Linked DNA regions of Homo sapiens: all the other regions are linked to region 1. Evidence: fine-mapped expression QTL. A gene starts in region 1. Each other region holds a variant in brackets. All regions are shown on one strand. Distances are between the middles of the regions. Region 1 holds the start of LRRN1 (leucine rich repeat neuronal 1). Region 2 has its middle 160 kb from the start of LRRN1. Region 3 holds the start of SETMAR (SET and mariner transposase domain methyltransferase). Region 4 has its middle 180 kb from the start of LRRN1. Region 5 overlaps CNTN4 (contactin 4).

Region 1 (5,106 bases):
GAAAGGCCCTTGCTCCAGAGTCTACTGCACGACTACCTCCCCGTTCACTGTTATGTGACCTGAAAACCACTCGGGTAACTAGGGTTGGGACAGTTGCATCACCTGCAGTTCTACAGTTTGGTGCCTTAAGAACCGAAATGACTTTGGCTAGACAGTGGACATTCTCAGCTAGACAGTGGACATTCTCAGGAAATCTTCATGTCGGTCAACGACAACGATCTTCTACTATAATGAATAGCTCTGAAGATGAGGACCAAATTTGAGCAAGAGTCAAATTATTAAAAGAAAACTCGAAAAGTTGAGGGGTCAATTCAGAAATCACTTCAAGCCGCCAGAAGTGGGTTAAAGTTACTGTCTGCTTCACACAAACCTTTTCCTAACTAGCTTAGAATATCCAGCTTGAATATTGCACGAATATATACAGCCAGGTAAAGAGCAAGCAGCACTTTGAGCTTTCAATACAATAGCACTTAAAGAATTTGGCTCCTGAATAAAGGTGTCAGCAAACCATGGAATTCCCAAACAGAAAAACTCACACTGCGTCTTTATTCTCTTTTCTTAAGGTCTATTGTTAACTGAAGACTCCTTGTCTTTTCAAATTCCTTCATGTGAATGGATGAGGCCAGACATCTGCCAGGATCCGCTCACATTTGCATGCAAATCAGAGACTTCGGGACACATATGGCCCTGGAGCCAATAACACTTTTACTCTAGATTTATACTGATCAAAGTGCCTTCCTGAACTTTCCACTCCTCCAGCCCTAGCTTTTAAAAATGAAATAATGAGCCTATTCCACTAACATGATTTAGATTGTCATGGCAAGACAAAACAAAACATGTTGTCTTTTAGAAAATCCTCCACGCAAAAGCCAGAGTCGGCAGCACCTGTTCCCTCACCCAATTAGAATTCCACTTTTCCTTTACGATTTAGGTTTGGGAATGAAAATACTTACGGCGGGATGGGATTTAGACTCTTAGCCTTTGCCTGTGAGCTTCAAGTGCTTCAGAACCATTTGTACCCCGGCCAGTCGTTCACTCACGGCCAGGCTCTGTTCTTGGCGCTGGGGCCGCGGCGGTGGACACGGCAAGCGAGGTCCCCTTCTCCTGGATCCGGCATCCGGGCCGAAGCGCCTGGTCCGCGTTTCCGCGCGGGCTCCCCTGGAACCGTCCCGGGACACGCGGCCCTCTCGCTGCTGGACTTTTCCCCGAGCCCCAGCTTGCCAGGCAGGGACTCCCTGGGCGGGCGGCGGGGAAGCGCCGAGTCGGCGGCCGCCCACACCCCTCTCCACGCAGCACAAAGGACACTCGCCGGCAAACTTTCCTCGCTTCTGACCCGGGCCGAGCCGGGAACTCAGCGCCAGCTCTGTTCCTGGCGGGGCTGAGGCTTCCCTCACATTCCAGGCCACCTGGCAAACGTCCTGAGGCTGCCACTCCTTCTGGGCTCAAGGCTCACGGGCTGAGGTCTGTCCCCGCGTGGAGCTCAAGGCTCACGGGCTGAGGTCTGTCCCCGCGTGGAGCTCAAGGCTCACGGGCTGAGGTCTGTCCCCGCGTGGAGCTCAAGGCTCACGGGCTGAGGTCTGTCCCCGCGTGGAGCTCAAGGCTCACGGGCTGAGGTCTGTCCCCGCGTGGAGCTCAAGGCTCACGGGCTGAGGTCTGTCCCCGCGTGGACCGCCGAGAGTTCGGTAGATCCTTCCCAAGGCTCTGACTTCAATACTTTCAGTGCCTTGTCAATTATACCCCTTGCCCCTTTCTCTTACCAAGGCCACCGCCAAGACACCCTTTTTCTTTCCTCTCCCCGTCGCCCGCCACCTTCCTTGCCCTCCTCTTGGCCCTCTTTCCAGCTCCCTGGGCCCCCTTTCCGCGCTGCTCTCCAGCCCCAGCTGCCTTCCCCGGTTCACATCCCGGCAGCCCTCCTCCCTCCCCGTCCCCGGGCACCTCCCTCCCCTGGTCGGCCCCTGAAATCCAGCAGGCTCGGCTCCGGTCACTGCCTTTTTTTGCCTGTTTCTATCTGGCCTGCCTTCCCAACTATCGCTCTCCCACACCTTTTTTTTTTTTTTTTTGGCAAGGGGGACGGGGGGAAACGGGGCACTATATTCTCGTTTCCCGACTTCGTCATTTTCCCCAGCTCCGTGAGCCGCGCCCCCTCGTCCCCCTCAGGCCCGCGATCTTACCCTGAGGTTCCCCAGACCCCGTAGGGTCTCCCACGCCACCAAGTTTGCCTCGACTTCCCCTCGCTGCCTCCCACACCTCCTGCCGCGGCGCGGCCGGCCAGGGACTTACCCCGAGGCCCAGCTGGTGGGGGTGTTGGGGTGCGCGCGGACCCGGCACCCACGGCGGCGGCGGCGGCAGCAGCAGCAGGAGGAGGAGAAAGACGAGGAGGAGGAGGAGGACTAGCTGAGCGGCGCCTCCTTCCCAGCCCGCAGCGCGCACTGGCTCCTTGGGGCACCCCCGGGAGAGCACCAAGACCGGAGACTAGGCGGCGACACAGGCAACCGCTGCTGCACGGGGCTGGGCTCAGTCGGCTCTCAGAGGCCAGGGCAGGGGGAGGCAGGACTGGGAAGGAGGGTCGGAGAAGTGGGGTGCAGAGGGCGGGGCAGCGAGCGGCCAGGTCCGGAGGAAGGCGCCCCAGGCGCCTAGGGATGCCGCCGCCCGGGCTGACGCCGTCGGCCCCTCTCCCCGCCAGGCGGGCGCTTGCAGCCGCGGGCGCACGGGCCTCGCCTCGTTCACCGGCTCGTTGCCGGCGCCCGCGGTGCGCCCCGCTTTGTGCTCCCCGCAGCCGGCGTGCACCTGGTGTAAGCAAAGGCGGTCAGCTGATGGGCCGCGCGCGGATTGGCTGCTCCGCCGTCTCCTCCCCTCCCGCCCGACCCTCTTCGCGGCCTCCCGCCCCCGCCCTCGGCGCGGCCCCGTGCTGGGCACCATCTGTGGACCGCCCAACAAAGGCGCAGCGCGGCGGGGCTCGGGTGGCCGGGCCGCGGTCGCCGCTTTTTGTCTAGGGGACGGCAGGCTGCGGCTGGGCAGGGAGGCGAAGCGCACTGCCGGTTTTTAGCAAAAGACAGACCAAAAGAAAATACACGTCCGTGCTAGGAGGCCAGCTAGGCACAATGGGGCCCCATCTCTTTGCGGCGTAGAACTCGGGCTCGGGGGCTGAGAACCAGACACAGTTCGGCCTGGGGCTGTGGGAGCCAAGTTTCGGGGTGAAATCCGACCCTGCGTCTTAAAATACAGGGCGCGTCCTCGGGCTGTGTGTGCGCGCCCGGGGGCGTCCTCCGCAGACCTGGCCCGGGCCGGTGTCCCTGCCGCGGGAAGGAGGATTCGGACGCTTAACTCAGCGGCGAAGTCGCTTCCCATTGGAGGAGGCTTTCCGAAAACGTTTCTGAAACTTTGAAATTACAGCTTTCTGATTTGTGAGGGGTGGAAGTTGTGTTTAAACAGGCGGCGAGGGACTGAGAAGGCAGTGTTAAGTGGAGGTGTCTCCGAGGAAGGGGAGGAGGGTGGGGACGGAATAGGTCTTCGGAAACTGCGCGTGAACCTGCGTCTCAGCTTCAAAGTCGCCAGCCGGAAGCAGGGCTTCAGAAAAGCCTTGGCACCCTTTATTGGGGGAATCGGCTTTAAGCGAAAGCATCATTAGCCCCTCAGTACTGAACAACTTCTGGCAGAGGAACGTGGTGACATTTCATTATGATGTCTAAACTTAGAACTTCTGGAGAATTTGGAAGGATACATTATTCGAGAATCATCCTTTGGATTCTTCAAAGCCACAGGATACATTCAATGTCAGTAACCATATTCTTGATCCCTGTAACATTTATTGGCGTTTCGCTTAGGTCTCTGATAAATGTTTGACGTCTTTGTGTGTCTTCACACTTTGTTATCCTGAAACTGTGTCATGTAGACATAAATGGTCACAGTTTGTCTTAAAAGTCTTTAGGAAAAGGTGATACTAGCACTTGGGCTAGAAGGTCGTGCAGAGCAGAGGAAGAAAAAGGCCCACTGCTGTCTACAAATGAATGGGAAGATTTAAGATCTTTCAAAGCAAGTTGAGTCTAGACCCTTGCCCAAGTTTTGTAACATGATTTTGTCTCTTTCCCCCCTTTTCATGCAGATTATCCATGGAGTTAGCATGCAGATAGCATGGAGTTTGTCTGATAGAAGTTGGGCTCTGGTGGAAGTACGGAAATTGAATGGTCAGGGAAAGATAGAATGCAGGTTTCTTAGGGAGTCTCTATTAGGTTTCCAGCCTGCCTTCCTGGGAGTGGAAGAGAGATGAGGTTGTGCCCTTCAAGGAGGAGCTTTACAGAGGTAGGTCTTGGAGGAGCAGTCGGAGCAATTAATGATGGTGAGAGTTGCTCTTGGGAGGCCAGATCTAGAACAGCCTCCAGGTTTTGGAAGAGACTTCATGAGAATGGTGTGAGTCAGGGACCAAGGTGTGAATTTTGAAACCAGGCCAACACTGCTTAGGTCCCAGCCCTGCAATTTATGAGCTGTGTCCCTAATGGCAAGTCACTTTATCTCTTTAAGGCTTAATTTCCTTGGCTCTAAAGTAGGGTTAATATCAGTACTTATCCCAAAGGATTGTGATGGTTAAGTGGGAGTAAACATGTAAAATGCTTAGGACAGTGCTTAGTATATAGTAAGCATTCAACGACAGATGTAAGCTCTAGGCATTATTAGGCAGGTATTGAAGACTAAAACAAGACATCAATTCAGACAGGTGGGATAATGATTCCGCATGTGACAGAATATCTCAAAGGCACTAGCTGCTCCAGTGGAGGAAATGGACTCTGTCTCTCCACTGTTCGATTCATTTCTTTTCAAATTAGCATATCATTTATTTAAACTAATTTCCCTCTTCCCCAAGGCAAGAGTGAGAAAGGCAGCTTTTCCCATTTCTACTTGACCACTGCATGCATTTGGTTCCAGACAGAGAGAAGAGCATTATCATTAGGAAGAAATGTGTGTCAGGGATGGGGGAAGGAATTTGGGTGAGAGGATGGGGCTTGCTGTGGACAGAAGAGGAAAAATGAGCATGACAATTATGAAAGAGTCTGAAATGTGGTGTAATTATTAGAAATTTGCTGAATTGCCTGAATTGGTAATTGGTCCAAA
Region 2 (5,106 bases), 160 kb after region 1:
GACTGGGTTTCGCCATGTTGGCCAGGCTGGTTTCAGACTCCTGACCTCAGGAGATCCGCACGCCTCAGCCTCCCAAAGTGCTGGGATTACAGGCATGAGCCACCATGCCGGGCTTGTATTATTTATTTTTAACAAAAATCAGAAAGCTCATTGTTTGATGATGAATGACAAACCTATAATTTATATATAAATGATTGACTACTTTGCAACTATTAATATGTTTTCAAAGAATAGCTTAGAAAATAGGAAAATATTGCAAATATAACATTAGGTGAAAACAAAATAGGACCCACAATTATATATGTGAATGAGTCATTGAGTTAAAAACCACCCTACCCTGTCAATAATGGCTATATGTTGGAGATAAAACTTAGGGCCATTTTAATATTATTCTTTATAAGTTTTTATATTTTCAAATTGTCTATAAAGAGTATGTGTTATAGTTACATTTTTAAATGATGAATTATATTTATTCTTTTCCATATTTATTATTTAGTTAAAAGAATTATTTTATGTATTCAAAACCCAAAAGTTAGTTAATTGCAAAGTCAGCTAATCAACAAGATTCCATTTCTCTGAATGCTTCCCTTGGTTATAATTGTACAAATTTCTGCTCGAGATATGCCATTTAATAATTATAAGTAGTATTTTTGATGTTTTAATTGGTATTTTTTGATATTAATAACATAATTTCATATATTAAGTGATTATTATTTCTACCAATTGTTTTTATATACTGAATACGAAGATATAACTCTTTTCTATACATTCTGTTGAATTCGTCAATTATGAATGTTGGAGAAAAATTATCAACTATCCTACTCCATTCATCTCTGGCTGTTCTTGTGTTACTACCATATATTAACTGTATAGTACCTAATTTTGTGATATGCCTTCCATATCCAGCAGAGTAAGTCATTCTTGCATGGGCAAATTATTCTCCCTTTCCTCTGAAGCTCTTCTTGTACTTCTTTTTAAAGTAGTCTCAGCTGTTGATTTTTTTGAGAGGTTCGTTGGTATACAGTAGAACTTGTTTTCTGAGATAAATAGACTATGACACTTAAGATTACGTAGTTGGGGCCAAACTTTTAAATATATATTATATTTGAGTTGATGATATAAACCCCACTACTAAATAATTTTCAATCAAGAATTCACGCCTGTAATCCCAGCACTTTGGGAGGCCAAGGTGGGCAGGTAGCTTGAGTCCAGGAGCTTGAGACCAGCCTGGGCAACATAGTGAGACCTCTACTCTACAAAAAATACAAAAAAAATTAGCCGGTATGGTGGCGTGCACCTGTAGTCCCAGCTACTCTGGAGGCTGAGGTGGGAGGATCCCTTGAGCCTGGGAGGTGGAGGTTGCAGTGAGCTGAGATCATGCCGCTGCACTCCAGCCTGGGTGACAGAGCCATTTTCTGATTTGCCATTTACTAAACAAGTGACGTGTCACTTTCTCGGAGCCCTAGCTTCCCAATCAGTTCAAGGAATATTAACTAGTCTATGATTTCCTCATGGGGTGGTGTAAAGATAGAAAGTGATCGTTGAAACTGTAAAGTGCTATGTAGATAGAAATAAGAGGTAGTGTTGCATATAAGATGGCTGTATGCTCAGTATGGCTGGCTGGTGGCCCACTTTTCTTTGGTTTTGGCCACAAGGCACCCTCGTAAAGGGCATTAGGCTTTCTACTAATATCCCTTTTCCTTGCATAAATGGAAGAGAACAGCTAGCTGACCGAACAAAACTAGCTTTAAAAACTAACTGCTAATTTTGAAAAAGAATCTCCCATCTAGAATATTTGGAACTAGTTCTATTACCTAAGAGGTTGTGGAGCTTTTTTTTTTTTCCTATAAACTACAGTTCCTGTATTGGACAGTGTTAGGGGCTGAATTGGGCCCCACCCAAATTCATATGCTGAAGTCCGAAGCCCTAGTACCTCAGAATGTGACTGTATTTGAAGATAGGGTTTTTACAAAGGTAATCAAATTAAAATGAGGTCATTAGGGTAGGCACTAATTCAGTAAGACTGGTGTCTCTACAAGAAGAGGAGATTAGGACACAGGGACAGAGAGAAGACCCTGTGAGGACACAACCAGAAGGTCACCATCTGTAAGCTGAGGACAGAGGCCTCGGAAGAAACCAACCCTGTGGACACATCCATCTCTCTGACTTCCAGCCTCCAGAATTGTGAGGAAATAAATTTCTGTTGATTAAGCCACCCAGTCTGTGGTACTTGGTAGTGGCAGACCTAGCAAACTAATACAGATGGCCATTCTAAGTGTTTCTCTCTAGAAAGCCACAGCACATAAAATACACATCTGGTCTTCTGACTCCAAGGTGTTGGGGTAATTTCAGTAAATAAAACTTCGCTCTAGAAAAGGCTTTGTGTTTTCATTACCTGCCATACTACGGCTTTTCATGGAGAGCAGGGACAAAGGCCAAACCCATATAAATTCAGATGGAATTGTTCAAGGGGTTGTTGTAAATTCATCACTTCTGGGTTCCAAGGAATTCTCAATCCCTCCTCTCCTGCAGCCTTGGAGAACAAGGTTCTGTGGCCTTCCGTGGGCGGCATCTGTTGCTTCTCTGTGTGCTCAGCCTCAAGGCTACGTGCTCTGCTTGTTTGTAAGTGTCTAGCTAAAACCAGATATGTTGGATTGTTGGTGATGGCACTGCAAAATGAAGTCTCTAGCTCGCAAATGTTTTGTATTCATCTTGGCCAAGTTTAGCAGATGAGACCTGAAAGCATTTTGTTACTCTCCTGGGATGATGGCTAATTTGACCCTGGGGCATCTTTGGAGCAAGATGCATCTTCCTC[A/G]GAAGTTGCTTTCCCTTCCAAGATAGTCCTGGAATGTGCTCAAACATGCTCTGTTGTTTGTACTTGTTCCTGCAAGAGCCTGGGGCAGTGCTCCGGCTGGAGCCAGGTTGCCAGGGCTCTGCCATTTCCTGACTTTATGATGTTGGGCAAGTTATTTAACCTCACTGTGCTTTAATTTCCTTTCCTGTGAAAAAAGATAATCCTACTACCTACCTCCTATGGTAGTTGTGAGGATTAAGCAAATTACTGCAGGTAAAGTTATTAGAGCAGTACTTGGCATTGTAGTAGTCTTTCAATAAATGTTACCAGTGTGGATGGAATACACCAGCTGTTCAATATGAGTTCTTTTTTTCTCAATATTCTAGAATGAGAATGGAGTCACAAAATTTTTGCCATGTAAATGCTGCAATGTATTTGCTCCCTTGGGCATAAAAAAAAGTATTTATTGAGATTTCTTATTTTCCAGGCACCATGCTGAGTAATTTATGTGCTTTATCTTAGTTAAACCTCGTAACAATCCTGTGAGGTCAACACTCTGTTCCAGTTAGGATAGGTTAGGTCATACTGCAGTAGCCAATAATACTAAAATCTCAATGGTTAATGGAACAAAGATTTATTTATTGTTCATACTGTCTTTTCAATGCAGGTAGTCAGGGGTCTCTGCTTACCATTATTACTCAGGAACCAAAGCCAATGGAGGATGATACTGTCATCTCAACAAATGTCTTCAGGACTAGCCATGGGAGGGGAAGAGAGCAAGGGGAATTGGGTGCCAAGTCTTCAATACTTCTACACTGGAGTGCTACACATAATTTCTGCTTGGATTAGCTGCAGAAAGTCAAATGACTATGCCTAACTTCAGGAAGGAGTATGTCTGGAAGAAGAGGAGAAAGAATAATCTCAGCACATACTGACACTGTTCCTATTTTATACCTGAGAACACTTTCAGCTTAGAGGAAAAGGGAAAAGTAGTTGGTTCAACATCACATACACACAGTAGTAAAGGGAAAGCCACAATTCCAGTATTCCACTGGCTCTAAAATTAGTGCTTCCAGTCTCTTTGATCACTGCCTGTAGAGGCTGGTGACATTCTTGCTGGAGCCTGTTGGGAGTTGAATTGTGCTCACCAAAAAGATATGTTGAGATTCTAACCCCTGGAACATCTACATGTGCTCTCATTCGGAAATAGGGTCCTTGCAAATGTAATCAAGATGAGGTCATATTCCATTAGGGTGGGCCCTAATCCAATATGAATGGTGTCCTTATAAGACAAAACAGAGACACAGACAGACACATGGGGGAAATACCTTGTGATGATGGAGGCAGAGCCAAAAATGCCAAGGATTGCCAGTAACTCCAGAAACTAGGAAGAGACAAAGACAGATACTTCCCTGAGTCTTGACAGGGAGCAGGGGCTCCCAACACCTTGATTTTTGACTTCTAAATTGTGAGAGAGTAACTTTCTCTTGTTTAAAGCCACCCAGTTTGTGGTACTTTTTTTATGTCATCCCTAGGAAATGAATATAGAGCTTATCCTGTAATTCTGTGTGTTGGATCTTAATTTTCACATTGTTTATTTAGCCACATGTCCCTTCTAACAAGCTTGGGCTCTTCTCAGGAGCTATCTCCTTCAGGAAGCCTTCCATGAGAGGGCCCTGTGCCATGTCTTACTCTTGAGGTCTGGTACTCTCAGATCAGACAGTATCTGATGCTGACTAGGCATTCAGGAAATGTTTGTTGAATGAATACAATGGCGTTGGTTTCTATTCTTTTTCTCTAATCTTCTCACCAGAGTTTAGATGTTTCAACTTTGTAACAGGATGGGACATCTATTTCAGACTTGGAGAGACTCTGAAGAGTTTGTCAGAGGACAGACAGTTCATTAGTTGGTTCTCATTTTGAAATGCTTGAACTCAGGGAACACATCTCAGCTTCATACACAGAGCCTTTGTGGTTGGATCCATGCTGGTCTTTCAGGATGGGTTCTCTGGAAGCAGATGCCAGATGGAGTTTGGGACTGAAGATATTTATCAGAGAGCAGTGTTAGTAGAAAGGAAGGGGAGTAGTATTGGACAAAAGAAGTCAAATTGGGATGCAGGCCTGACACAGCCTTGTCAACCTATCTGTGAGGGAGCTCTGGAAAAGTACCTCCAGGGTGTCATCCATCAGGCCAAAGTCGTCGGTCTTTACAACCTGGAAGGGTAAAACTCTGACAAAGCAAGCGCACCTGAGGCTGACCCTGAGACAGTGGCAGCGGAAGGCCATCTGCTGACTGCACCTCCTGTGGCTGG
Region 3 (5,106 bases), 510 kb before region 1:
AGTTTGACTTTTCTGAATCACATTCCGTACTGAAGACCCAGAAACTGAAGTATGATACTGTAACATTCTAGGCTTAAAACCTGGGCCTCTGAATTATAAAGAAGTGTTGTGAAAATCTTCATTCCTTTTTTGGTTGTGTTGAAACCCCAGCTACAAGAATCTTTGTACTTGGCCTCTAGCCTCATAAGTTTGTTTTTCCTCCAAGCAGCTATTAGAAGACTGTGAGCCAGATAATTCTTGTCAAGGCCTGTTGAGATCTAAAAATAATGTTTGAAGCTGGTTTCAGAGACCTGAAAAATGGTTAGATCCAACTGTTAGCTCAATAAAATCAATTAGTTTATTTTCTACTTGGCTTTCAACACTGATGACATTATGATATGCTTGTTTCCAATATGAACATTTGAATTTCTTTTTGCCTTTTCACACAGTAGCCAAAGGCAAAACAGACACAAAGTTATTTTTATCTTGAAAGTTTTTCATGCCTTAATTCTTATGTGTGCATATGCCTGTGAAGGCAGGGTTTGGAGCAAGCAAGCTGTTTTGACCTTTTATAAGACTGGTTTTGTGTTCCATGAATACATGGAAGAAAACGAGTTGAATGCACTTTTAGGCTTGTCACTTAAATGTTTCAAGCATGTTTGATCTTCTTGGTAAGAAAGACAATAAGCTCTCTTAGGAAGGCATCCTGTCTTATTTTTGTAACTCTAACTTTATTGGGAGCTGTGCATATACAGAGATAGTTAGAACACTGTGGGACTGGGTTTTAATCTCCCAATTTTCATTTATGCCCACCAACTGTAGATGTAACAATCAATCACAAAGCTTCCTCTTGTCACTCCTTTCTCCCCTTTTAAAAATAGACGTATTTATTTTAATATACACTTTGAGAAATAGAAAACCTCATGATTTTATGGACATTAATGATTACAATGATTCTAAGGGAGATACTTATATAATTTATTTTTAAATAATTTAACGCTTAAAGTGAGTTAATTAAAAAAATACGTCGGGCACATAGTTTTACAGATTGTTCTTGGATATGGCAAAGAAAAATATGACTCAAGATTGGAAACAGATTTATAGAATAGTCTCAAACGCACACACACACGCACGGCAGGAATATTGAAGCTAATCGTGACAGTTGTAAACACCTTGAGGGTAGAGTGCGTTTTTCTGTTTGTTGTATTCTTTGCAGCCCAACCCACCACCTTGCATATATTTAGCTCTCAATAAATATTTGTTGAATTAAGAATGGACTAGAACAGTGGTTTTTTAAATCAGTGTTTTTGACCAGGAACTCAGCAATGCTTAGTCCTAAGTTTTCAGGGACCACTGTTTAATATTGGGCCAGCTAACTGTATTATTAACTATAAATTGCCAAAGGTAGTCTGGGGAACAATAATAATTTCTGACATTAATATCTTATTCTACTCTTTGAGGACTAAACTCTGATTTTTTCTTATCTTGCCCAAATTCCTACCCAAGGCACCTGGGGAGTCATGCCTTACAAACCATAAAGTCTCATCAGAGGAGTTTTAATTTTAACCCTATATAGCATGGTCTGCTTTCTACCTGACTCTGGCATAACATCAAATAACAAATAAGGGAAGAAATCAAAATATTTTAACCCCAAATATATTTCCTTGCCATATCTTGAAATTGCCCTGGAGGGTTGTCTCTTGTGGGAAAAATCCACATTCTATAGAGAATCCCCTTTCCCCCTCTTTTTCTTTCTTTCCACAACAAGGAGATAATCAACTAAGACCGAGGCACCTTTTTAAGTTAGATAAGAAACATTTTACAACCTGCTCCCTCTGAAGTCAGCTGGGAGTCTCCTCCCCACAATTAAAACTTGGGTCTCTACATGGCCGGGTGCGGTGGCTCACGTCTGTAATCCCAGCACTTTGGGAGGCCCAGGTGGGTGGATCACTTGAGGTCAGGAGTTTGAGACCAGCCTGGGCAACATGGTAAAACCCTGTCTCTACTAAAAATACAAAAATCAGCTGGGCGTGGTTGTAGGCGCCTGTAATTCCAGCTACTCGGGAAGCTGAGGTGGAAGAATCGCTTGAACCTGGGAGGCGGAGGTTGCAGTGAGCTGATCGCACCACCACACTCTAGCCTGGGTGATGGAGTCAAGCTCCGTCTCAAAAAAAAACCCTTTATCTTAACCTAAACATTTCTATTGATCCCAGGTCTTCAGACAAACTCAACCAATTGTTAACCAGAAAAATTGTTAACCAGAAAAATTAAAATCTACCTATAGTCTGGAAGCCCCCCCCACCACTTTGAGTTGCCCCGCCTTCTGAACCAAACCCATGTACATGTTAAATGTATTTGATTGACGTCTCCTCTCTCCCAAACATGTATAAAACCAGGCTGTGCCCTAACCACCTGGGACACATGTTCTCAGCATCTCCTGAGGGCTGTGTCACAGGCCATGGTCACTCATATTTGGCTCAGAATAAATCTCTTCAAATATTTTAGAGTTTGATTCTTTTCCTTGACATCTTTGAAAGCTGCTATTGAATCTCTTATCTTATCTGATCCTCACAAAAACCCCTAGGAAAAAGAAAGGGCAGATAGGGTTCATTGTTGATAATGGATGTTAAAGGGGCTATGCATTTTTAAATTATTATTTTCATTTTGCAGATGAAGAAACTCAGGCTCTGGGAAG[T/A]AGCTAAGATGTCTAAGCTCCGAACCATACTCTCCAACTTCCACGTCCAGCGCTCTTTCCACTTCAAAATCTTTGGTCATTCCTTATTCCTTGGGTAACGCTCAGGCCAAGGTCGGAGGGATAAGAAAGTCAGTAGAGGCTGGGAGCGTGGCTCATGCCTGTAATCCCAGCATTTTGGGAGGCCGAGGCGGGCGGATCACCTGAGGTTGGGAGTTCGAGACCAGCCTGACCAACATGGAGAAACCCTGTCTCTACTAAAAATACAAAAATTAGCCGGGCGTGGTGGCCCATGCCTGTAATCCCAGCTACTCGGGAGGCTGAGGCAGGAGAATCGCTTGAACCCGGGAGGTGGAGGTTGCGGTGGGCCGAGATCGCGCCAGTGCACTCCAGCCTGGGCGACAGAGCGAGACTCAGTCTCAAAAAGAAAAAGGAGAGTAGAAAGGGCTTTGAGGTAGTTAATAGAAGCAAACATTTACTGAGTTCTTACAGCAAACCGGAAAGTGTATTTTCCTTGCCATTTTCAAAGCACTCCGGAAGAGAGGTACTGTTCCACTGTACGCTGGAAGACTCTAAGGCTGAGCCACAGCTAATTTACACTCGCCCAAGAGCCCACAGCGTGAGGGAGACCACAGCTAAGGCTGACTCGAGGGGCTGTTTTTATGCACGACACCGGCTGCGATCCATTAATAGGCCCCACGGCTTATCCTACCTGTGAGAGACACCTGAGACCAGGGAGGTAAATGACTCCCCCCGTGATGCCTCCTTGAGTTCTGAGGACAGGACTGGACAAAAAGCCAGGTTCTCACAAGGCCTCCGGTTCTGCGCTTCAGGGAATGGACTGAAAAGGACAACACCCTTGCTAAGGTGATGCCGTGGGTCAACAGAAAAAGGCCCAGGCCGGGGCATGCACACCTATTCCCGCGCACCAACGGGTGCGCTGTAAGAGAAGACAAAAGGTCGCGACTGGGAGGCCGTCCCAGCGAGGCGGCTTGAGGAGACCACGTGGGGGAGCCGCGCGCCCGCCTCCCGCGCCGCCTGGCCCCGCCCCTACCTGGAAGGGCGCCGGCGCGGCCCCCGGGGGCCACGCGCCCACCGGCAAGTTTTCCTGGCCGCACGCGACATCCAGCTGCTCAGTCGGGGCCTCAGGCTTCTCCTTAAACTCCGCCATCCCACAAGGCCGTGTCGTCTTTGCCGCTTCCGCGAACATTTACCCGCCTCACGCAACGCCCACTACCCTGACAGTCCTGGGCCGCGCGGTGGATGCTGGGACTTGTGGTCCCGTGGCCCCACCGCCTCATGGGAATTGTAGTTCGTTTCTTCTCAGGAGTGGCCTGGAAGGCGCTTCCCTTCCTTGACTTTTTGGGTCTGGCTCCCGTTTTGATTTCAGCCAGAGGCACCACAGATAATTACAAAACCATGTAAGGTACGGACGAAACAAAGTGAGGTGCTTTAGTTTTTCCTGGGAGCATCAGAGAGGGGGCTTTCGAGGTGAGGTCATTTGTCCAGGTTTTTGAGGGCTCACTGCACGTTTGTGGAGTGGAGGCAGGGGTGCGTTCTAAACCGAGCGGGGAAACGCACACCAAGGTTTCTAAAGGTCTGCGGCTTGCCGGGAAGTTGACTGACATGTGATAGGGTTTGTGCCAAGGCGATAGCCTCACAGGGTGCCTTAAGGAATTTGTGTGGGGGCATGCTCACTCCCTGATGGAGGTATCCGTGCCCCTTTGCCTGTCCTTTTCCCTCCTCTCCATCCCTCTACCCTCACCCCTCCAAACCCCTGCCCTGCCAAAGGATTCTGATAGCCTCAAGACTGCTGAATCCGGTGGAGCATTTTCAACCTCACTGAAGCTCTCTGACATGATTGTCCTGCTTCTCCTTGAAACTGTAAACCAAAAATAAAATTCCAATCCTCCAAACCATCTGAAGGGACCCCTCCTCTCTGCCAAGGTTAACCTGAGAAAGTGGTTCAGGCCATGATGGGAAGGGGGGTCCAACATGCCTCATTATGCCCTTCTTCCTTTTGGAATTCAGGAAAAGCCAGCCAGCATCAACATCAACACACACCTTAAGTCTGATAAGAAACATTTACAATCTGTTCTCTGAAATTTACCTCTTGGAGGCTTCATCTCCACGATCAAATTTGGTATCCACAACCTCTTATTGCAACCCAGACATTCGTTTCTATTGATTTTAGGTCTTTAGATAATAACCAGTTGCCAATCAGAAAATCTTTAAATCTACCTATGACCTGGAAGCCACCCCTCACCCGCTTCTCGTTGTCTGCCTTTCCAGATCCAACCAATCTTACATGTATTGATTGATGTATTATGTCTCCCTAAAATGTGTGAGAGTAAGCTGTATCCCAACCACCTTGGGCACATGTCATCAGGACTGCCTGAGGCTATGTTGGGGGCGCATTCTTAAGCTTGGGAAAA
Region 4 (5,106 bases), 180 kb before region 1:
TCTTTGGTGTCTGCTGAAGTCTGGCTTTCTGGGCTCCCTCTCAAAAACGGCATATTTAGCCTTACTCTTGGCATCACCTCTGCAGGGCGTCGGACAGCACTGCACCCATGGCTTTGCATAAGTTCTCAACCCTTCAGAGGAATGAAGGAAGCTGCAATTGCCCCCAATTCATAAGCCAAGGGTCTAGGCACTGCCTTCTTGTTGAATGCTGACCAACATTCAAATTTAAGTATTCTTGCCTATCTGATAAGCAAAAATGTTCCTGATGTTTTAACTTGGAAGAAATTATTTCAATATCATGATTTCCATAATTTCTATCATTTGGTGTTCTTATAAAAGCTATCTCTCATCTTATTCTGGAGATCTTTCCTTCACATAGGAACCTCTACATGACACAGAAAAGAAAAGATAGATGGGCGGCGAGAGTCTAGATTTATATTCTAGCTGTTATGCATGGTGAGGCCAGCTTAAGAAACACGTGGCTTTTGAAAGACTTTCCATTGTATAAGGAGCAGACCAGACTTTTAACCACAATCCAGAGACTTTTAACTTCACAAAGATATGGCATTTTATTTTAATAAAGCTATCGAGAGAGCTCCCTTTTCGAGTGACTTTTCAAACGCATCTTTTGTCAGCAGAGGGCTTTTATTAGCTAATGTAACCTTTCTGTACTCCATGTTAGCAGAGAGAGAAAGGAAATGTCCTTGGGTTCCAAATGTGGAAAGTTGTGCAGAGACTCTCAAGGAGAAAGAAGTTTTCCGCTTTCCAAAGCTGCATTTGTCACTCGCTGTTGTATCGTAACTGAAAGTAATGAACTTTCCGATGCTACTGTCCAGAAGGTAAAGGTTTACAAGATTATGCCTCTAAACTGGCAATTGCATAAAAAGAGATCACCAAGGATTAAAATGTAGAGACCAAGTAAAAGTGTGAATTTAGCTGTGAGTGATAACTTGTAGAGACTCAGCTATAAAATACCTGAAATGGGGGGAGTTAGGCAAGACCTAGGAGTGAGGAGTGAGAGTAACAGTCTTGGCTGTGGAACAGGGTAGCTAGATGTTTAGGGCTTAATCCGAGCCACTACTGATAATTAAACAGCATCGATAAACTGAAGGAGCATGGGGAAGGAGTATGGATTGTGGGCTCCGGGTGCAATTCATGTGGGGTGTCGGTGTTGTGGTTCCATTAATCAGTCGTTTGATGGAAGAGCTCAGTCAGTAGTGGAAGAGGCTGGTGGCAGGGGCTTTGACAGGTCTTAGGACACTGGGAAAATAGATTGAGATTCTAGAGCAGGGCTAGTGCAGTGTGGGATCTGAACGTGTTGTCAGGACTGAGCCCAGCCCTTTGATTACAGTCAACATAGTAGGAATGGAGAAAGTCACACCTAAATGGGAACCTGAACCAGGGCTTCATTTCAAAGCCCATGGAACAGATAGGGAAGGGTGACTAATGACTTTTCTACTGTTGCAGACTGGCTTACAAACTGAGTAAGGCACAAAAGGAAGAACTGGTGTTGATAGCAAAGTGTCATCAGAGAAGGCAGGAAGGACACCCTGTCATACTGCCCGTTGGCTCCCCAGATATCACTATTTTTTTTTCCTCATCCTTGTTAGGAACTGGCAGGTAGTTGTGCTTGATGTCTATTAGACTTCATTTCAATTTTGAGGTCCATAATTCAATGGGGATAGATATAAAAAGGCTTCCTTTTTCATTAAAAGGGTAATTACCTCGTTATCAGAGTGCTGGAAAGATGAGAGCTCATGGATTTTTCATAAAATTATAAGTTTATAAGGAGTCGGGTGAAGTCATCTTATTCTGTCCTCAAGCCAGGGACAAATCTAATTCACCCTTGATGGATGGGACATTGTTTAACAAGGATCTCTAGAGAATAAGCGTTGATAACTTTCAGTATTTTGCAACCTTCAGTTGTGTTATTTCTTCTATCCTGTTGAATATATTGACACAGAATGGAAGTCCATAATTTTTTTGTTCTCTTTGGGTAGAAAGAATAGTGTTATAAATGTACTTCATTTTCATTATGTTAAAGAATACTTATCAAATGCCTTGTATGTGCTTGGTGCCAGATACAGCTGTGACACAGGGAAGAAGACAGACTTGATCCCTGCTGTCATTTAGCTGTGAGACTCATGAGGGATAATAACCAATAATCACATCAGTAAATGACTACAAATTGTAATAAGTGCTGTGAAGGAAACACTAAGGCATTGCTACAGAGGATAACAGGAGGAAGCTAAGACCTCACTGAGCCTGTGGCTCCGGCCGCTGAGTGATGGTCCCTTCTGTCTGCCAGGGTGGGATCGGGCACTCATCCAGTTGCAGGTGCGAGCACTATTGAGTAGCACAGGGTCTCAAGCTGTGGCCATGGACTTGGGCAACAGGAAATTAGAAATATCCTCTGGAAAGCTGGCCAGATTTGCAAATGGCTCTGCTGTAATACAGTCAGGTGACACTGCGGTAATGGCCACAGCCGTCAGTAAAACAAAACCTTCCCCTTCCCAGTTTATGCCTTTGGTGGTTGACTAC[G/A]GACAAAAGGCTGCTGCAGTAGGTAGAATTCCCACAAACCCTCTGAGAAGAGAGATTAGTACTTCTGATAAAGAAATTCTTACACGTTGAATAGTAGATTGTTCAGTTAGACCTATCTTTCCAGCTGGCTACTTCTGTGATATACAGGTTCTGTGTAATCTGTTAGCAGTAGATGGTATTAATGAACTTGATGTCCTAGCAATTAATGGCAACCTCTGTAGCCCTCTCATTATCAGATATTCTTTGGAATGGACCTGTTGGGACAGTATGAATAGGAATGACTGATGGAGAATGTGTTGTTAACCCAACAAGAAAAGAAATGTCTTCTAGTACTTTAAATGTAGTGGTTGCTGGAGCACCTAAAAGTCAGACTGTCATGTTGGAAGCCTCTGCAGAGAACATTTTACAGCAGGACTTTTGCCACGCTATCAAAGTGGGAGTGAAATATACCCAGCAAATAATTCAGGGCATCCAGCAGCTGGTAAAAGAAATTGGTGTTACCAAGAGGACACCTCAGAAGTTATTTACCCCTTCACAAGAGATTGTGAAACATGCTCATAAACTCACTATGGAGAGACTCTATGCAGTTTTTACAGATTATGAACATGATAAAATTTCCAGAGATGAAGCTGTTAACAAAATAAGATTAGATACAGAGGAACAACTAAAAGAAATATTTCCAGAGGTCGATCTATATGAGATAATAGAATCCTTCAATACTGTTGCAAAGAAAGTTTTTAGAAGTATTATTTTGAATGAATACAAAAGATGCGATGGTCGGGATTTGACTTTACTTCGGAATATAAGTTGTGAGGTAGATATGTTTAAAACCCTTCATGGATCAGAATTATTTCAAAGAGGACAAACACAGCTGCTTTGTGCTGTTACATTTGATTCATTAGAATCCAGTATTAAGTTGGATCGAGTTATAACAACTATAAATGGGATAAAAGATAAAAATTTCATGCTGCACTATGAGTTTCCTCCTTATGCAACTAATGAAATTGTCAAAGTCACCGGTATAAATAGAAGAGAACTTGGGCCTGATGCTCTTGCTGAGAAAGCTTTGTATCCTGTTATTCCCAAAGATTTTCCTTTTGCCATAAGAGTTACATCTGAAGTCCTAGAGTCAAATGGGTCATCTTCTATGGCATCTGCATGTGGTGGAAGTTTAGCATTAATGGATTCAGGGCTTCCAATTTAATCTGCTGTCACAGGTGTAGCAATGGGATTGGCCACCAAAACCGATCTTGAGAAGGGTGAAATAGAAGATTATCATTTGCTAACAGATATTCTGGGAATTGAAGCTTACAATGGTGACATGGACTTCAAAATAGCTGGCACTAATAAAGGAATAACTGCATTACAGGCAGATATTAAATTACCTGGAATAACAATGAAAATTGTAATGGAGGCTATTCAACAAGCTTCAGTGGCAAAAAGGAGATTTTACAGATCATGAACAAAGCTATTTCAAAACCTCAAGCATCTAGAAAAGAAAATGGACCTGTTGTAGAAACTGTTCAGGTTCCATTATCAAAATGAGAAAAATTTGTTGGACCAGGTGGATATAACTTAAAAAACTTCAGGCTGAAACAGTTGTAACTATTAGTCAGGTGGATGAAGAAACGTTTTCTATATTTGCACCAACACCCGGTGCTATGCATGAGGCAAGAGACTTCATTGCTGAAATCCGCAAGGATGATCAGGAGCAGCAATTAGAATTTGGAGCAGTGTGTACTGCCACAATAACTGAAAGCAGAGATACTGGTGTAATGGTAAAATTATATCCAAATATGATTTTGGTACTGCTTTATAACACACAACTTGATCAATGAAATATTAAACATCCTACTGCCCTAGGATTAGAAGTTGGCCAAGAAATTCAGGTGAAATACTTTGGATGTGACCCAGCTGATGGAAGAATGAGGCTTTCTCATAAAGTGCTTCAGTCTTCAGCTACAACTGTTGTCAGAACTTTGAATGACAGAAGTAGTATTGTACTGGGAGAACCTATTTCACAGTCATCATCTAATAATTCTCAGTGATCTTTTTAAAGAGAATTCTAGAATTCTATGTTTTCTAGGGTAATGTGCTATAGAGCAAAATTTTAGTAGTATCTTCCGTTGTGTAGCTGTGTATACAGTATAAATATATTCTAATTATTTGTATTAAAATGCTCATTTACATGTGCCAATTTTTAAATTCAAGAGTAACCCATATTCGCTTAATCTTATTTACATTATAAATCAAGAAATATTATTAAAAGTAAGTCATCCATACATCTTAGAAAAGATTACATACTTTTTTTTCTATAATTCTGAAATATATGAAAAACTTAGATATATGTCATATATGTTATTATAACAGATCTCTTCCTATATCTCATTTGTCTTCTTTATATACAGTAGTGACAATTTACCCTCAGTCATCCTATAGCTCACCTCTTTGCCCAACAACTTTACTTGCCTACGACTGTTCACAAACTGGAACAGGCCATATTCAAAGCCAGTGCCTATTTCTTCAGAATGGTTACTAGACATAGTAAGTTGAGGGAGCTAATCT
Region 5 (5,106 bases), 890 kb after region 1:
ACAGCCTGATACCAGACCAAGCCATGTTGATAAGACTTTGTTCTCAGGGGGCCTCCCACATAGCCCAGTTTCTGTCATCACTTAGATTCAGGCAAAACGGAAACCACTCCCTTAGGTAGTACTTCCCCCTCAAAAGTAAAAACACTGGATATACCTTCCACTCTTTTCTTTCCCTCCCCAGCAAGAAATTAGGAATTGGAAGTTTTCTACTGATAGCTCTGTGCTACGCTGTGGGGAGTGGGAGGTGCTCCAGCAAGCGAGTGCCATAAATTTTTCTACAGTGCTTTAATGCTATTGGCTTTACACTTGACTGGAGTGCAGAAATCTCTTAACTGGTTTTATTTCTTTCAATGGCAACTGGTCCATTGGGGAAAAAGGGTCTGGGGCTTCCCTTTTGACTATCTTGATGAATCACCCCCCACTACCAAATCTTGAATGTCAGTCTAATTAATACTCCTTAGATTAGGCTCCCCAAATGCAATCAATTTTGCCAGAAGGTGGTGGAGGGGGAAAAATAGTTACTTCATTTATTTATTCATTCACAAATTCAAAGAACTTGGGGTAGATAATGGTAAAAGACATAAAGTAGTAAATACATTTACAATATGACTCAATTCAAACAGGGGAAGGGTAGAAAACAATCTCACTAGAATTAATACAATAGAGTTAAATTAATCCCAGACTGGGCAAAGAGAAAAATAACATATTTCTTACTGACTGATGAAAAACTTTGCCTCTTTACTAGAAGATGCAAACTTTTCTTCTTTTAAGAGAGAAGTTCTACATTTTATGAGAAATTTATTGGAAATATTTTTATGAAAAGGACTAAGGACTTCAAGATGGATCATCTCTTCACAGCAGTTTTACAGAAGATTCAGATATTTTGGTTATAGGATTGTATATAAAGTATTAATGCTCAGTGATGCCTTAGGCTGCATTCTAGAGTAATATTTTAAACTCTGACTCACTGCATTTCTTTGGGGGAATTGATGTAAGGGATGATCATAATATTTATCATAATATTTATCAGCTTTCAATGTCTCCCCTCAGTTGGCTTTAACTACCAGAGTCATGCCATGCAGCACTTTAGCTCAAGCCTCACATGGTAGTCTGTCAAGACATTCTGTGTGCTTTATTCCTATTCACTCTCTTGTTGAAATGGGGCCTTCAGCCATGGTTGGAATCTCTGATGCCTGCTCTTTCTCTCATACAGGGGTACTTCGGATTCAGAGTGCTTTTTGATCCAAAATCAGATGTTTTGGTAGGGAGACTATGTTCAATTTTTAAAAACAACAACAAAAGCCCTCTGTGTAGGACAGATTTCCTATTTTAGGATAGTGGTTCTCAAACGGTGGTCTTGGATAAGCAGCATCAGCATCAACATCACTTGTTAGAAATATAAATTCCCAGGCCCCACTCTAGAGCTACTATATCAGAAATTCTCAGGGTAGAGTTCAGCAATCTGTGTATTAACATGTCCTCTAGATTACTGTGATGCACGATAAAGCCTGATAATCAATATTTTAGGAAAATTCAATGGCTTTTTAAACCTGATCAATTAAAGCAATAGTTCTCAAATTCTGTTGTTCTTCGGAATCACACCTGGGGAGCTTTAAGGAAAAATGCCTGGGTCCTAGGATCAGAGACTGAATTAGTTGATAACGAGTATGGTATGCCATCAGGATAGTAAAGAGTTCCCCAGATGATTGTAATCTGCAGCAAAAATTGAGAAGCACAGAACTGGGATTTACTGGTGATTTCATGGCTATCTCTAAGTGTTTGGTATGGATACTAAGAGAAAAAAAAAAAAGCCCAAACCTTCTTATATTGTTATAAACACCTTTAGGTTTGCAAAGGCTTTCACGTGTAATTCTGTCAGTTTTCACAGTAAGATGAGTAATGACATCCTCCTACTACTGGTACGTATATGATCAATAACTTGATAAAGACACCAAATTTGCTTTTGAGAGCCAAGTGCACAGCTCCCCTCTTCATGACAACTTAAGTAAAGCTCTTGCCTGGATGACTGCAGTTGGGTAAGAAAGGCATGTGTCCTCTCATTCGATGCTGATCACACTCAGCACATCTGATTATTTTGTAACCTGGCTCAACGAGGCAGTTGAGAAATCAGATGCAGATGAGCACTTG[T/C]GAAAGTCCCTATGAAATAACTTTTAGTTTAGCCTTAATGTTTTTCTAATTTGGGAGCCAATCACCTGGGTAGATGCCAAATTAACCAGATAATCGCTCAAGGTTGCACCTCACTTTAATTGGGCCATCAGTTACTTGATGGTATTTGAGTGTCCTGCCAGGGTCAGATGTGTTCCACCACACAGGCCAGGAGAACCCCCGGGATACTGAACCATTAGACATAATTTCCTCAGGATAGAAGCTACTTCTCCTCCATTATACAGTCCTGGAAAAGTCAAGTCATATTCAAAAGACCACTGGGCAGATACCCACTCACCCTTAGGGATGGCTCCTCCCACTGTAAAATCAAAAAACTTTTTTCACAATATTCTCACATATATAAGCAAAATCAAAGATTTTTGACCCCCACCACTTCTGGAACCCCACTTAAGAGGTAGCTTAGGAAGTGATTAACATGGAGATTTTTTAAAAAGCTAGCCTCATTATCTCAAGGTGGAAATGGGTCTGAGGTACAGTTTATGTTCCAGAAATCTCCCTTCTGGATTAGACTTAGGCTAGACTTTACCTAAGACCCCATCCTTGTTTGGTTCCTCCTTCTTCCTTATTCTGCTTTTCCTTACAGGTTTTTCCTGGAGAACACTCTTTCAGTGAATTGCAGATACCTGAATACTTGCCTCAGACTTGCTTTGGAGACCTTAGCTATCCTCTATATTTACCCAATGATTTCAAGTTTGGCAATTTAATCAGCAGTCCCCATCGCCAATATGATCATCTGAGTGGACACAAATACTAAACATGGGTAGAACTATTACTTTAGAAAAGTTATTTTTTCACCAACAAAATACCTAACTTAGTTATCTTTACTTTTTAAGTTACGTATAGAAGATTCAGTTTCCCCATGATTACAAGACTCTATTTACTCTAATTGTAATACACCTTCATGAGTGGGGGAGAGGAGTGGAATGATGGTTATCACCCAGGGAGTTGTACAGCACCTCAGGGATGTCCACAGGGATATATCCCACAAGTGAATCTCATCCATGACTCAGGCTAAGACAGCAGAAAAGATCTAGGAGGAGTTGCCTTGGGAAAAAAATAAACTGCCAATTGTCATAGTTCAGTCACAGACAAGGACACTTCCATTTGATGTACTCATAACCAGGCCTACCAATATACTGACCTCAAGATAAAAGTCTCTCTATGGCGTTTGCCCATCCAGTGAGTAAATCACCCAGCACACAGATTAATTATTTAGCAGTTTAAATCCATTAAATAGACATGTTACATACACATTAAATACCAAGACAGAACACATAAAATAAAACCAAGGGAAAAACCTATTAAATATATGCTTCCTAACCATCTCTTATTCATGACCGTAGGGCTATCACCCAACATTAAAAGGAATCTCCTCTATAGCATTGGAGGTTCCTGATATTTAATCAATAGGTGGAACCAACATATATATTTTTTCTTTCTTATACAGATTATCAAGAGATAATTTTTTTTTTTTTTTGAGACAGTCTCACTCTGTCACCCAGGCTGGAGTGCAGTGGTGCAATCTTAGCTGACTGCAACCTTTGCCTCCCGGGTTCAAGTGATTCTCCTGCCTCAGCCTCCCAGATAGCTGGGACGACAAGCATGCACCACCATGTCCAGCTGATTTTTGTATTTTTAGTAGAGATGGGGTTTTGCCATGGTGGCCAGGCTGTTCTGGAACTCCTGACCTCAGGTGATCCACCCACCTTGACTTCCCAAAGTGCTGGGATTACAGGCGTGAGCCACTACACCCGGCCAAGAGATAATCTTAACAAGAGATTATCTTGTTTCCATTTTGTTTCTTTGTTCAATTCAGCATCCTCATGATTCTAGCATAGGTAATGACAATTTAGTTATTTGATCCAAAAGAGCCAAACTATTCCTGCTATATAAGGAACAAAGTGACTTGTGGAAAACAATCATATTATGTCTTACCCAAGTTAACCAATATTAATTTCTATGTATCTTTAAATAGGCAGATGTCTTCTCCCTTATTCACTTAAGAGAGACTCTACGGGTTTACACACTCAATCTTTAACTGCCCTTCAATTTACCTGAAATATATTACTGGGAATTTTTGGAAGGGAAAATGGGATATTAAATAGGGAACTTGCAAGCTTGTCATTCAAGAATCTCCAAAATTGGTCCTTAATGACTTCTCCATCTTTCTTTTTCTTTTCTCTTTTTCTTTTTTTTTTTTTTTGAGAAGGAGTTTCACTCTTGTTGCCCAGGCCGGAGTGCAATGACACGATCTTGGCTCACTGCAACCTCTGTCTCCCGGGTCTAAGTGATTCTCCTGCCTCAGCCTCCCGAGTAGCTGGGATTACAGGCATGCGCCACCATGCTCGGCTAATTTATATATATATATTTTTAGTAGATATGGGGTTTCACCATTTTGGCTAGGCTGGGCTCGATCTCCCAACCTCAGGTGATCCGCCTGCCTCGGCCTCCCAAAGTGCTGGGATTACAGCTGTGAGCCACCGTGCCCGGCCACCATCTTTCTTTTTCAAGTTTAAATTTTCCGATATATGCTTTATGTATTTGAATCAAAATTTTTATTTTTTTTATTATTTTACTTTTTAGATTGACAGACACAATTGTATCTATTACATACAACATGTTTTGAAGTATTTATATACGTTGTAGAATGATTAAATCCAGCTAGTTAACATAAATTACCTTATATAATTATCATTTTTGTGGTGAAACACTTAACATCCGCTCCCTCAGCATTTTTTGAGAGTACGATATCTTGTTATTAACTATAATCATCGTGTTATACAATAGAGTGCTTGAATGTATTTGTCCCATCTAACTGAAGTGTTGTATTCTTTGAACGACATCTTCCCAACCCTCCCCCGCCGATTCCCCCGACCCTGACAACCAGCATTCTACTCTATTTCTTTGAGATAAACTTTT

Evidence for each region. PIP is the estimated chance that this variant, and not a neighbour inherited with it, causes the effect.
Region 2: its variant is fine-mapped to the expression of LRRN1 in unexposed skin (GTEx, PIP 0.98).
Region 3: its variant is fine-mapped to the expression of LRRN1 in whole blood (TOPMed, PIP above 0.99).
Region 4: its variant is fine-mapped to the expression of LRRN1 in whole blood (TOPMed, PIP above 0.99).
Region 5: its variant is fine-mapped to the expression of LRRN1 in whole blood (INTERVAL, PIP above 0.99).

The regions. Positions count from the first base shown.
Region 1 is chr3:3,797,094-3,802,199 of GRCh38, reverse strand. It overlaps LRRN1 (leucine rich repeat neuronal 1), which reads right to left and starts at 2,769. Exons shown (of 2, transcript NM_020873.7): 1 at 2,281-2,769. It overlaps LOC100130207 (a long non-coding RNA gene), which reads left to right and starts at 1,325. Exons shown (of 6, transcript NR_149025.1): 1 at 1,325-1,499. RefSeq lists silencers at 2,449-2,558, 2,699-2,788, 2,799-2,868.
Region 2 is chr3:3,634,726-3,639,831 of GRCh38, reverse strand. No RefSeq gene overlaps it. Among named protein-coding and RNA genes, the nearest start is that of LRRN1, 160 kb to the left of the region's middle. The variant A/G (reference allele first, on the strand shown) is at 2,816.
Region 3 is chr3:4,302,146-4,307,251 of GRCh38, reverse strand. SETMAR (SET and mariner transposase domain methyltransferase) reads right to left here and starts at 3,883. Exons shown (of 3, transcript NM_006515.4): 1 at 3,726-3,883. The coding sequence starts at 3,881. It also overlaps a transcript of SUMF1 not described here. RefSeq lists enhancers at 3,446-3,515, 3,544-4,286 and a silencer at 3,606-3,945. The variant T/A (reference allele first, on the strand shown) is at 2,675.
Region 4 is chr3:3,981,455-3,986,560 of GRCh38, reverse strand. It overlaps the pseudogene PNPT1P1. Among named protein-coding and RNA genes, the nearest start is that of LRRN1, 180 kb to the right of the region's middle. The variant G/A (reference allele first, on the strand shown) is at 2,542.
Region 5 is chr3:2,906,129-2,911,234 of GRCh38, reverse strand. The region is part of intron 12 of CNTN4 (contactin 4); the gene reads right to left. Among named protein-coding and RNA genes, the nearest start is that of CNTN4-AS1, 150 kb to the left of the region's middle. The variant T/C (reference allele first, on the strand shown) is at 2,149.